Homo sapiens: one gene and its partner. The protein of the gene in region 1 purifies or fractionates together with the protein of each later gene. This does not show direct contact. Each region holds a gene or a part of one and is shown on either strand. Other genes may lie near its edges.

Evidence for each region. The genes of interacting proteins can lie anywhere in the genome.
Region 2: the proteins of BMAL2 (region 1) and NSMCE4A purify together in Homo sapiens (co-immunoprecipitation; 2 studies listed by BioGRID and IntAct, with this or other methods). This does not show direct contact.

What each region holds. Positions count from the first base shown.
Region 1 is NC_000012.12:27,335,824-27,342,851, forward strand, and holds part of BMAL2 (basic helix-loop-helix ARNT-like protein 2), read left to right. Parts: intron 1-7,028. UniProt on the Homo sapiens protein: Transcriptional activator which forms a core component of the circadian clock.
Region 2 is NC_000010.11:121,965,192-121,972,219, reverse strand, and holds part of NSMCE4A (non-structural maintenance of chromosomes element 4 homolog A), read left to right. Parts: intron 1-1,150; coding exon 1,151-1,281; intron 1,282-4,413; coding exon 4,414-4,565; intron 4,566-6,834; coding exon 6,835-6,934; intron 6,935-7,028. UniProt on the Homo sapiens protein: Component of the SMC5-SMC6 complex, a complex involved in DNA double-strand breaks by homologous recombination. The complex may promote sister chromatid homologous recombination by recruiting the SMC1-SMC3 cohesin complex to double-strand breaks.

The DNA.
Region 1 (7,028 bases):
GGGGAGGGACTGCCACTCCATCAAAGTTTGACTCCAGGAAAAACAAAAACTAACGTTTAAAATATATAGGGAAAGCCAAAATATCAGTAGGAGAATACAGTGATTTCAGTTTACTTTGTCCTTGTGAAATGACTCCCTAGTTCTAAAAAGCATGATGTTCTGTGCTGTGAACATTGAGGTAGCATCCTTTTGAAATCTCCATTTGTGTCATGTTCAGGAAATCATAAATGAGCAAATAACAATTCATTCTGGTAGCCCTAGTTTTCAGTTGTCTCATTTAATTGAAGACCTCCACTTCTCTGCATTGACAACTGAGTTACTCGGGTGCTTGGGGTCTGGGTCATTAGTCAGCATCATCATGGTCATAAGCATTTTCAGGGACCTCAGAGTGTGCCATGTGCCCTACAGGAGGCAAGGGCACCTGAGACATCCGCCTGTTCTGTGAGACAGTGATTTCCTGCCCTGGTTTTTGCAAGGTTACTACCTGTAGTGGCTCCCCTGGTTCTCAGCATCCCAGCCCTCTGTAGCCCCTGCCTTGCCCAGTGCCTCACCCCTTCCCAGTGGCAGGAGCCAGTGGGAACTAAGAGCCTTCAGTGTAAGCCCTTATTGGAGCTAGGACTGCAGGTGAGATATGTTCTCTGTAGTAGCGTGTAGTATTTCTAGATATTTACTGATAATTTATGCAATACTTAGCTATGTATGCCCTGCCGCACCCTGTTTCCTTCTCTTACTCAGGTGCTGTCACACTTACTGGTCCCTGACACATACTGTTTACATTGTATCACACTAGGCTATAATATCCCATTTACCCACCCAATTTTTTAACTTAAAATATTTTTAAACCTGGCTGGGCGCGGTGGCTCACGCCTGTAATCCCAGCACTTTGGGAGGCTATGGCAGGTGGATCACCTGAGGTCAGGAGTTTGAAACCAGCCTGGCCAACATGGTGAAACCCTGTCTCTACTAAAAAATACAAAAATTAGTCCGGCGTTGGTGGTGCGTGCCTGTAATCCCAGCTCAGGAGGCTGAGGTGGGAGAATCACTTGAACCTGGGAGGCAGAGGTTGTAGTGAGTCGAGATCATTCCACTGCACTCCAGCCTGGGTGACAGAGCGAGACTGTCTCAAAAAAAAAAAAAAAAAAAAAAAGTATTTTAAACTTCCTTAAAACTTCTTAAAATCAGTTCAGTTATACAGTGTTAACATTCTCACCTGAAAATACTTAAATGGTTGGCATGATAGGAAATTTGACATTTATGTAGCTAAATTATTTGTATTTCATTTCTCTAGTCTTTAATCTTATGGTTTAAATCTCTAGATGGTACCATTACAGCGAGATTAAAAACAAAGAAGTCTAAAGGAAAAGGAAATGTAAAGAGAATCATTCTTCCACTCTATGCTTTGCATTAAAGGATATTTAGAATTGAAGGTTAAGACTATTGTGATAAAACAATAACTTCCAAGACATTCAAAGTGTTTTACTTACAACATTTCATACATTTTTAAGTAGATTAGAAATATACTTTATCATATTTTCCAAGCATATCACAGGGAAAGTAGAGAATCATCTACTACCCTTCTTGACCAAAGTGCCTCCACCTTTGCCCCTGTGATATGTCCTATACTCAATTATGTGAAGGAACCTGCCTTTCCCCAACATAATGTACACTTTCCCACCTCCAGGCCTTTCCTCAGGCTGTTGGCTGTTCCTGGAATACCCCTGCCCTCCCTCTAGATGGGTCTGGAGAATCTTAACCAATCAAGCTTGAAGGCTGAGCGCAGATGTCACTTTTTTTGTATGTGTGGAGGAGGAGAACTGGTGTGGGAAAATCAATATAAGCTTTGGAACTAGGCCACTGGGCTTGTGATTTCTGGTTTCATTACTTGTCAGCTTTGTAAACTTGGTCAAATTTTAAAACTTCTCTGAGCCCCAATTTCCTTATCTGTAGAATAGGGGTAAAAATACCTAACTTGGAAGGTTGTTTTGGGAATTAAATGAGATAATGATTACAAACTGTTTAATGAACTCTGACCTTCAACAAATGATTTTCCCCTTTTCCTCATGCAACCTTCCCAGAATCTCCTCGTCACCCAAATTGAAATTATTCTCCCCTCCTATTTTCACACTGTAGTTTTTTTGTGTGCCTATGATAACACTTGTGCCTGTCTGCCACAAGTTATTTGGTTTCTTAGCTCCACCCTTAAGTTGCACATTGCCAGGAGGCCAGAATTGGTTCTTACTCAGCTTTATAATCTCCAATTTCTTGCACCTATTAAGTGCTTAATAAAGGCTTGCAGATTTTGAATGAAGAATAGTTTGCTTAAGGTGTGGAAAGGGTTAGTTCATTCTTAAAGGACCCATTAAATACGCACTATTTACTAGGCAAACAGAGAAGCAGAAGTGGATAAAGCAGGAGAAGGGGTTAAAGAGCTTACAAAATCTATTAGGCTGGGTGAGAAATGCAGCCAAAATATTTGTAATATAAGGTAGGCACATGGTACAATATATGGGCTAACTGTTAGGAGTTAGTCTCCTCCCCCACAGTTGGGAGAAATTATATCTAGTTCATGAAAGAGGGACCACAGAAGGCTTTCAGAGAAGGGGTTAATTTTAGTATCGATGGAAAGACAACTCTTGGAGAGGCAGCCAAAAAAAAAAAAGGTTTGGGAGGGGGTCTTCCAGGGAACAGAGTAGGCATGGAAATGGAAAATCACCAGTGACATGCACAGAAGAATTGATGTTAGTATCCTTTGGCTTTGGATAGGAAAACTGAAAAGGAAAGAACTGGCCTACTGAAAAGTTTCATCATTTTCTATTGGGCTTCCCCTCCAAGGTCTGTGATGAGGCATGGACAGTGAACACAGGCAGCCTGTCTTACACATAGGTGAGTTTCCTGCTCTACAAAAGGAAAGATACATGCATCTTCTTTTTGGTTCCTGGCAGGCAACAGAACTTTTAAGTCACCTTGAAAGGCAAATTATGGCATATTTCTGATCAGTAAGAAAGCCGGAAAGCTCACTGATTCCTGGTTCCTGCCAGATGGTTGTCTCTTAGGTCTTAGTCTTCACTCCAAGTTATCTGGGCCCCTTCTCTCTTTCATCTTTTCTTTCCTGAAAAGGGAACTACTACTATCTTTTTTTTAACTTTTATTTTAAGTTCAAGGGTATATGTGCAGGTTTGTTATATGGGTAAACTCGTGTCACAGGGGTTTGTTGTACAGGTTATTTCATCATCCAAGTATTAAGCCTAGTACCCATTAGTTATTTTTTCTGATCCTCTCCCCTCTCCAACCTTCCACCTTCCAATAGGCCTCAGTGTGTGTTGGTTCCCTCTGTATGTCCATGTGTTCTCATCATTTAGCTCCCACTTATAAGTGAGAACATGTGGTATTTGGTTTTCTGGTCCTGTGTTAGTTTGCTAAGGATAATGGCCTCCAGTTCCATTGATGTTCCTGCAGAGGACATGATCTCATTCTTTTTATGGCTACATAATATTCCATGGTGTATATTTACCACATTTTCTTTTTCTAGTCTACCATTTATGGGAACCTAGGTTGATTCCATGTCTTTGCTGTTGTGAATAGTGCTGCAATGAAATATGCATGCATCTTTATAATAGAACAATTTATATTCCTTTGGATATATACACAGTAATCGGATTGCTGAATTGAATAGTAGTTCTGTTTTTGGCTCTTTGAGGAATTGCCACACTGCTTTCCACAATGGTTGAACTAATTTACACTCCCACCAACAGTGTATTAGCATTCCCTTTTCTTTGCAGTCTCACCAGTATCTTACTTTTTGACCTTTTTTTTTTTTTTGAGACGGAGTCTCGCTCTGTCACCCAGGCTGGAGTGCAGTGGTGCGATCTCTGCTCACTGCAAGCTCCGCCTCCCGGGTTCATGCCATTCTCCTGCCTCAGCCTCCCCAGCAGCTGGAACTACAGGTGCACGCCGCCATAATAGCCATTCTGACTGGTATGAGGTGGTAATCTGATTGTGGTTTTGATTTGCACTTCTCTAATAATCAGTGATGTTGAGCTTTTTTTTTAATATGCTTGTTGGCCACATGTATGTCTTTTGAAAAGTGTCTCTTCATGTCCTTTGCCCACGTTTTAATGGAGTTGTTTGTTTTTTCCTTGTAAATTTAAGTTTCTGATAGATGCTGGATATTAGATCTTTGTCAGATGCATAATTTGCAAAAAGTTTTCTGCCATTCTGTTGTAGGTTGTCTGTTCACTCTGTTGATAGTTTCCTTTGCTGTGTAGAAGCTCTTTGGTTTAATTAGATCCCATTTGTCAATTTTTCCTTTTGGCACAATTGCTTTTGGTGTCTTGCATAATGAAATCTTTGCCTGTTCCTATGTCCAGAATGGTATTTCCTAGGCTGTCTTTTGGGTTTTTATGGTTTTGGATTTTACATTTAAGTCTTTAATCCATCTTGAGTTGGCTTTTGTATATGGCATAAGGAAGGGGTTCAGTTTCAGTCTTTTGCATATTGCTAGCCAGTTATCCCAGCACCATTTATTGAATAGGGAGGGAGTCCTTTCCTGGTTGCTTGTTTTTGTCAGCTTTGTCGAAGATCACATGGTTGTAGGTGTGTGGCCTTGTTTCTGAGCTCTCTATTCTGTTCCAATAGTCTATATGTCTGTTTTTGTACCCCTCCCATGCTTTTTGGTTACTGTTGCTTTGTAGTATAGTTTGAAGTTAGGCAATGGTGATACTTCCAGCTTTGTTCTTTTTGCTTAGGATTGCCTTGGCTATTCGGGCTTTTTTTTTGGTTCCATATGCATTTTAAAGTAGTTTCTTCTGGTTCCGTGAAGAATGTCATTGGTAGTTTGATAGGAATAGTATTGAAACTACAAACTGCTTTGGGTAGTAGATAGTCCATTTTAACAATATTGATTCTTCCTATCCATGAGCATGGAATGTTTTTCCATTTTCTGTGTCATCTCTGATTTCTTTGAGCAGTGTTTTGTCATTCTCATTGTAGAGATTTTTCCCCTCCCTGTTAACTGTATTCCTATGTATTTTATTCTTTTTGTGGTGGTTAAGAATGGGACTGCATGCCTGATTTGGCTCTCAGCTTGACTGTTGTTTATGTATCGGAATGCTAGTGATTTTTGCACATTGATTTTGTATCCTGAGACTTTGCTGAAATTATGCATCGGCTTAAGGTGCTTTTGGCCCGAGACTATAGGGTTTTCTAGATACAGAATCATGTCATCTGCAAAAAGGGATAGTTTGACTTCCTTTCTTCTTACTTGGATGCCCTTATTTCTTCCTCTTGACTGATTGCTCTGGCGAGGACTTCTAATACTATGTTGAGTAAGAGTGGTAAGACAGGACATCCTTGTCTTGTGCCAGTTTTCAAGGGGAATGCTGCCAGCTTTTGCTCATTCAGTATGATGGTATTATGTTGGCTGTGGGTTTGTTGTAGATGGCTCTTATTATTTTGAGGTATGTTCCTTTAATACCTATTTTGTTGAGGGTTTTTAACATCAAAAGGTGTTGAATTTTATCAAAAACCTTTTCTGCATCTGTTGAGATAATCACGTGGTTTTTGTCTGTAGTTCTGTTTATACAATGAATCATATTTATTGATTTGCATATGTTGAACCAAACTTGCTCCCCACGGATAAAGCCTATTTGATCATGGTAGATAAGCTTTTTGACGTGCTGCTGGATTTGGTTAGCGCAGCTACTTATCTCTTTAAATATACTTCACATTCTTCTGAAAAGCATAAGTACTATTTCATTTATTTCCGTGACAGCCTATTGGGAAGCAGGTATCTGCACTTTCCACATTTATTCGGCATAATGACCTATGTTGTTCTACCATCCCCATCACTCTGTGCCCTTGATGTGGGTACGTGCTCCAGATATGCTCGCAGAAAAGAACCTGGAGCACTTACAGACTTTTCCTGTGCAGTTCCATGGGACAAAGCTGAAGACCCTCAGCCTTGACTTCCGATACAAACACTTAATGAAGGTTTTTAAACAATAAGAAATCCGGTGCCCTGTGTCTGAACATACTCCTAATATGAAAAGAGCACTCATGGAAACAGCTAAGTGTGGTGACATCAGGAGATGTCTTGTTTGTTTGTTTTGTTTTTATTTATTTTTTTTATTTTTGAGACAGAATCTCACTCTGTCGCCCAGGCCAAAGTGCAGTGGTGTGATCTCGGCTCACTGCAACCTCCACCTCCTGGGTTCAAGCAATTCTCATGCCTCAGCCTCCCGAATATCTGGGACCACAGGTGTGCACCACCACAGCCAGCTAATTTTGTATTTTTTTAGTAGAGACGTGGTTTCATCATGATGGTCAGGCTGGTCTCGAACTCCAAGCCTCAAGTGATCTGCCCACCTTGGCCTCCCAAAGTACTGGGATTACAGGCATGAGCCACTGCACCCAGCCAGTTGTTCTTATTTTAATTCAGTTACAATGCAGAGGAACTCTGTCTTAGAAGTTACTTGTAAACAGAAACTCTATATATCAAAATACATTGTCTCTTATTTAGAAGCAGAGAATATAGCGAGAATATGTTATTGTGCCAATAGAGTACTTAAGCTATAAGTGTATTTTATAGAAATGCAGATTTTAAGAGATAGATCAGTATACATCTGATCTGTAGATTGAATCTATACCATCCATACAGTAGATGGGATTGAAATTGATTGAATACTTGACAGAGGGCATTATCAATAGATGTTAAAAGGAATAGAAGATTATCCAGACTAATAATTGTTTTGTTAAAGATCTAGAGAAAAGTTTTGATGAAACAGTGAACACAGTTTCCAGCTCTATCTTCTTTCCTTGAACACGTACCAGCTCCCTGGTTGGAGAATTAAATTTTCTCTTTGAGTTTACATGGCACCCAAAGATAGGCTGTGCTTACACTACCATGGAAACAAACAATATTGCATTGTAGGTAGGCCATCTCTTCTGTAACAAGTCACCGAGGCAACCACTCTGACCTAGAAAAGAGAGACTAAATCCAATTCTCCATGCATCATGGTGCTAGTGGCTTC
Region 2 (7,028 bases), on another chromosome or scaffold:
CACCCGAGTAGCTGGGATTACAGGTGTGCACCACCATGCCCAGCTAATTTTTGATTCTTTAGTAGAGATGGGGTTTCACCACGTTGCCCAGGCTGGTCTCAAACTTTGGAGCTCAAAGTGATCCGCCTGCCTCGGCTTCCCAAAGTGTAGGGATTACAGGCATGAGCTGCTGTGCCCAGCCTGTTTCTGCATTAATTTAAATCTTTTTTTTCCATAGCTTTTCTTAAATCCCATGTCCTCTGTCAAGCCTTTTTTGAGTATCCGTCCTCGGGTCACTACCTGCTACCTGTAGACTGTTCATTTGGGTGGCTTTGCTGGGGTTGCCTGTGAAGCCATACAGAGGCATGAGCCTCCTAGTGCCAGCCTAGCACATGCCATGATTTTGGTTAGCAACTTTAGCAACTTACCTATTGCTTAGCAGCTTACCTATTGCTGTTCACAAACCACCATGCCAAGCACAGGGCCCTACATGTAGTGGGAATTTGATTTTCCTTACGTCAGCACACATGATCATCGTGATTAGGATGGAGGGAAAAGTGAGTATTAGACATGACGGGTTTTGCTCAACTGGAGTTATTTAAGAGATTGTGATTCAGCTAACAGTAGGAGAACTAGACAGAAAGCTGGCTTTTAGGAAGACTGGTCAGCTTTCATTAGAGATTTTGGTGAGTTGGGCACAGGAGAAAGTTTTTTTTTGTTTTTGTTTTTGTTTTGAGACAGCCTCTTGCTCTGACACCCAGGCTGGAGTGCAGTGGCGCGATCTTGGCTTACTGCAAGCTCTGCCTCCCGGGTTCACGCCATTCTGCCTCAGCCTCCCAAGTAGCTGGGACTACAGGCGCCCGCCACCACGCCCTGCTAATTTTTTGTATTTTTAGTAGAGCTGGGGTTTCACCGTGTTAGCCAGGATGGTCTCGATCTCCTGACCTCGTGATCCGCCCGCCTTGGCCTCCCAAAGTGCTGGGATTACAGGCTTGAGCCACCGCACCTGGCCAGGAGCACGTTTTAGAAGGAGATGTGTCAGTTGCCTATTGAGATTTTTTTTTTTTTTTAGTCCAGTGGGAAATCCTGGTAAGTAGTTGGAAATGTAGGGAAAAAGTCTATGGATAATGTGTATTTTGTAATGTGAATATTTTCTTTCTTTTTTGAATAGTGTCCCGAGCAAGAGAAGCAGTCCTGGATGCCCACTTTCTTGTTTTGGCTTCAGATTTGGGCAAAGAGAAAGCAAAGCAGCTGCGCTCAGACCTGAGCTCCTTTGACATGTTAAGATATGTTGAAACTCTAGTAAGTTCAAAGCTACAGACTCTGAATAAAAAATGTTCTGTTATATATTATAATTATTTACTGTGCTCATATCCATATGCAGATGATTTCACTTCATTCTTCTTTTTTGGTCTCAGATTCCTCTGTAGAGATCTTACCAATTTAAACAGACGAAAGTAGAACCATGTGGTGGAATCTTGGGTGGGGGCTTGGAGTAAAAATCTCGTAGCATTCTGTCTTAAGATGCTGGGTGCTATGGTCATTTGCCAATGGCCATTTTTCCTCTGTTCACTGGTGTTCTAGATCATTCTCAGTGACCTCAGACCTTTGTCCTGGGCTGGACAAAAGCCCACTCTGCGATGGCAGAGCTCAGCTGGAATTGAGTTAGGCCTGGCGAGAGGGCATGTTTTGGTCTGTCTTTGAGAATATTTCAAAACCATGTGAATATGATTGGGTTTTGCTTTTTTTTTTTTTTTTTTTTTTCCTTTGAGACAGAGTCTCGCTCTGTCGCCCAGGCTGGAGTGCAGTGGCGTGATCTCGGCTCACTGCAAGCTCTGCCTCCTGGGTTCACGCCATTCTCCTGTCTCAGCCTCCCAAGTAGCTGGGACTACAGGCGCCTGCCACCACGCCCGGCTAATTTTTTGTATTTTTAGTAGAGACGGGGTTTCATCATGTTAGCCAGGATGGTCTGGATCTCCTGATCTCGTGATCTGCCCGCCTTGGCTTCCCAAAGTGCTGGGATTACAGCCGTGAGCCACCTAGCCCAGCCAGGTTTTGCTTTTTTGGTTTTATGTTTTATTCACCTTTCTTTGTCTCTTGACAAGTTTGAATAGTGGTTACCTGCAATTCTAAAACTGTTCCTTGATGAATTTACCAAAAAAGAAAAAGCACACAGAGACTGACCTTGTATCTCACTTTGTTGTCTTTTTAAAAAATTCTATTCTGGCTGGGGGCAGTGGCTCACGCCTGTAATCCCAGCACTTTGGGAGGCTGAGGCGGGTGGATCACCTGAGGTCAGAAGTTTCAGACCAGCCTGGCCACCATGGTGAAAGCCCGTCTCTACTAAAAATAGAAAAATTAGCTGGGTGTGGTGGCAGGCGCCTGTAATCCCAGCTACTCGGGAGGCTAAGGCAGGATAATCCCTTGAACCCAGGAGGCAGAAGTTGCAGTGAGCCGAGATCGCGCCACTGCACTCCAGCCTGGGCTACAGAGTGAGACTGCACCTCAAAATCAATCAATCAATCAGTCAATCTGTCAATCTGAGCCAACCTCTGTCCTAGCACAGATAGCTGCACCTCAGTATGAATATTGCATTTCTAACTGGATGTTTATGTTAAATGGTTATTAAAATAATTTAGTACTATGAGATCTGATCAGATAATTTTTTTGTAAAGGCATGAGGCACCAGATTATTTCCAGTTTGTTTTTCAAACCTTTTCCTTTTTTTTTTTTTTTTTTAACTTTTTTTTATTGTGAAACATAATGCACTTAGGAAAGTGCACTGTAATATAGAGGTCAATAAAGTAACCATGTATTGGGTATTTCTTTAAAAATTACTTTATCAGGTTAAGCTCTATTTTTTTATTTTTTGAGACAGAGTCTTGCTCTTGTTGCCCAGGCTGGAGTGTTGCCCATGCTGGAGTGTTGCCCAGGCTGGAGTGCAGTGGCACGATCTCAGCTCACCGCAACCTCCACCTCCTGGGTTCAAGCGATTCTCCTGCCTCAGCCTCCCAAGAAGCTGGCATTACAGGTGCCTGTCCCCACGCCTGGCTAATTTTTAGTAGAGGTGGGGTTTCGCCATGTTGGCCAGGCTGGCCTCGAACTCCTGACTTCGTGATCCACCCGCCTGGACTTCCCAAAGTGCTGGGATTACAGGCATGAGCCACCGTGCCCGGCCAAGCTCTGTACTTTAAATAACATATCAAAATAAATTCTGGAAGTCTTAAAGCATTAAATATAAAACCTTAAATTAATAGTTGTCCAGTCTCTGGGTGGAGAAGACTTTCGTATGTATAGCATCAAATATAGACACTATAAGGAAAGATTGGTGGATTTCTCTGTCAGTTAAACAGACCAAAACTGCCACGTCTGCCTACAAGGGTGCAGTGGTAGTTCGGGCGGCAAGGGAATGGAGAAGAGCTGGCCATAGCGCTCTGACCAGGCTCTTGTAGCCTTTCTTTTCTTTAAAGTCTGATTGCCTTTAATAGGGTTAAGCTCCCTGAGGGTTTTGTGATTATTGTTTATATATGATATTGCCATCGTAATTGGATAACTTCTAGGCATTTTACAGTATAATGTAATAAAAATGTACTTTCATAAAAGTAAATTCAATATAACACATTTTCTGTAAGACAGTTTGAGATGAGAGAATTATTTGACTTCCGCCAACTCTTCCCAGGAAGGCAATTTTAAGATGAGCCATTCTCTCAGTGATGCCGGGCCACTGCTCTCTGGATATACTGAGATACAAGCTGAATAGAGATTTGTAGGAGGTTGGCAAAAAATTAAAATCTGAAAACCAGCTGAACTTCCTTGTGCTGTCTTGAAGCTTTTGATTTGGGATTTAATTTTATATTTATATGTTAGTGCAGCTTTACTAATACACGAACTATTGGTGATACAAAAAATCCCAGGGGGCTGAGTTCTGGCATACCTAAATACTTCTGGCTGCCAGTGGGCTACAGCAGGGTTTCTCAGCACTGGCACTATGGATTGGCATTTTGAGCTGGGCATGTCTTTGTTTTGGGGGCTGTTACTGTGCATTATATGATATTCAACAGCCTCCATGGCCTCTACCCAGTATATGCCAGCAGCATATCAGTTGTGACACCCACAAATGTCTCCAGGTATTGCCAGAAGACCCCTGTGGGCACGTATACCCAGGTTGAGAACCACTGGTCTAAATCATTTCACTTTCTCACCCAAAGGTTTTAAGTACATTGAGGAATGTTTTCTGCCAAAAAGAAGGTAGCTTTGGAAGCAGGACTTTAACTGTAAAGTTATCTTCACAGTAAGAAATTTAGCCAGCATGTTAAGACACTGAAAGCTGGCTTTGCGTCTGGCCTCTTAAAGGTTGAGTGATGCGGATTATTGGATGTGGAAAATGATTGCATGTGGCTTAACTGGGTTTTTTGTTTTCCTTCATTTTTGTAGCTCACACATATGGGTGTAAATCCGCTAGAAGCTGAAGAACTCATCCGTGATGAAGATAGTCCTGATTTTGAATTCATAGTCTATGACTCCTGGAAGATAACAGGCAGAACAGCAGAAAACACCTTTAATAAAACCCATACATTCCACTTTCTGTAAGATTATTTTAAAAATCCAACAGACCAGTTATTTGTGAACCTTAAATTGCTTTTTCTTGTAGGGACAAAGATTATTTGGTATTGTAGAGGTGACAGTCATGATGCCGTTGTTTGGAGACTTTTGAAACTTTGATATGAAAGTTCATAAACACTAGGCCGGGTGTGGTGGCTCATGCCTGTAATCCCGGCACTTTGGCAGGTGGATGCAGGTAGATCATCTGAGCTCAGGAATTCAAGATCAGCCTGGGCAACATGGCGAGAACCCATCTCTACCAAAAATACAAAAAATTAGCCCGCTGTAGTGGCCCATGCCTGTGGTCCTGGCTACTTGGGAGGCTGAGGTGGGAGGATCACTTGAGCCTGGGAGGCAGAGATTGCAGTGAGCTGAGATTGCGCCATTGCACTCCGGCCTGGCTGACAGTGAGACCCTGTCTCAAAAAAGAAAAAAAAGTCCATAAACTCTAGATGTGGATGGAACCTTAAAGGATCTCTCATTCTGCTTTAGCAGAAAAGGCCAGAACCTCTTTACCAGTGCTCTCCTGGCTCCTTTGCTTCTAGCTCATGAGACTCTGGGTTTATCATCTTTAAAATCCTTATCATATAGGAGGATGATACCTCCTACTGAGGGTATCTTATGAGTCTCCCAACGTCTAAAGTGACATTTATTATAATACCCTGTTAGATGACCACTGACTTGTATTTGAAGATTACTTGTCACTGCCACATAAACTGTCCAGTTCATTTTTTAGATAGAACTCTGATTTAAAAAAAAGATTTCTTTATATTTGAATGAAGTTGGCTTCTGTCTTAACTTCCTGGCATGGTCCTATGGAGAAATTAAGAACAGCTCTTACTGGCTCTTCTCTAAGAGGACCTTCAAGTATACTGGTTTTGTTGCCCAGTAAATACTTTAGGGTAGCCATCTGAGTTGTTCAGTCCTTCTTTAAGTGGTATAGCTCCTGGGCTTTTGTCTTTTCTAATTTGTCTTTCTAAAAACCATTGAGATTGATAGTAGCTCGGGTAGAAGGCCTTGGAGATGCCAATGTAGTAGTGTGGTGTGGGGTCTGGCATCTATTTTTAATAAGACTTCAGGTAACTCAGGTGCCCAGAGCCATTTGTGTATGTTCTATTTAATAGGATGTAGTCCAAACTTCTTCATCTTAGGATAAAGTCTAAATCTTTGTTTTTTGCTATTGTACTAAACTCATAAATCCTAGGTTATAAAGATAAAGCCTTAAACTTTATCTCATCATCCAGCCCAATTTCCAGCCACAATGAAGTACTTAAAACTCTGTGTCTTTGTACTTGCTGTTCTCTTGGCCTCCAATTCCTTTTCATCTTTTCCATTCGGTAAAGTTTGTTTATCCCACAGGCCCCATCTTGGAAGCCTCCAGCAACTTCTCCAGACAGAGGTGTTAGCAGTGTAGGATCAGATTTCTCAACCACGTCACTCCCATGTCTGGGTAGATATCTCTGCCCAAGTGTTCTCATAGCACTTGAGCAGTACTCTCTAAGCGCCCAGGATCTACCATGTTGCTTTTTTAAAATTTGATTAATTTATTTTTTTATACTGCTCCTTGTGGAGCAGGAGTGTTCCCAGAGTAGCCCACCATGTTATATTGAAATGGATCTGTGTGCATAATGCAGCTGTCCATCTACATCGTATATTTTTGTCTCCTCAAGGGTAGGGACCACATGAGCCTTATTCTTGGGGCTTTGATCTCTACATGATGCAGACTTACATCTATTACTGTAACCCAAGTCTGCATGAGGGCAGAATCCAGAAGGAAAAGGAATCCCATGGCTGTGACTTGCCCTGTTATCCTAAGACAGATGTGTTCTGTAGTCCTGGGCTGGGAGCCTCTGCCTTGGCCTCCCCAGATCAAAGTCTTCTGACCCCACTGGAGCTTCCCCACATACATGTTCATCCTTCCCCTGCTCTTAGAAGTTGGCTTTGCAAAACAATAGGTTGGGTGGTGGGAAGATGTCACAGGCATATTCACTGGCCTACTTTACAGGGCAGTATGTAGGTGTCTGAGGAGGTATCTGTGGTTGAGTAAAGCTCCTAGGAGTTCTTTTAGAAATACAAAGAAGGCAGAAAGGCTGTCACAAACCTTATCAAGAGTCTTACTCTGATGTCAGCTTGTATATCACTGATGTCTGGTCTGAATTTGACTATACCATGCAAACTACTTTTAGTTAGTAAAGTTAGTTTGTTTAACAAACAACAGGCAAAAAAAATAAATGAAAGCATACTTTTCATTAGGTTGGGTTCAATATACGGAGAGTGCCCTGTGCCAAAGCCACGAGTTGATCGTCCAAGAAAAGTTCCTGTGATACAAGAGGAGAGGGCAATGCCTGCCCAGGTTTGTTTTAAAATGTTGCTTTTAAAAAAACACATTAAAGTTAAAATAGCTGTTAAAATAATGTGCATGCAATTTGGCCATTTTTTCTAAGTGT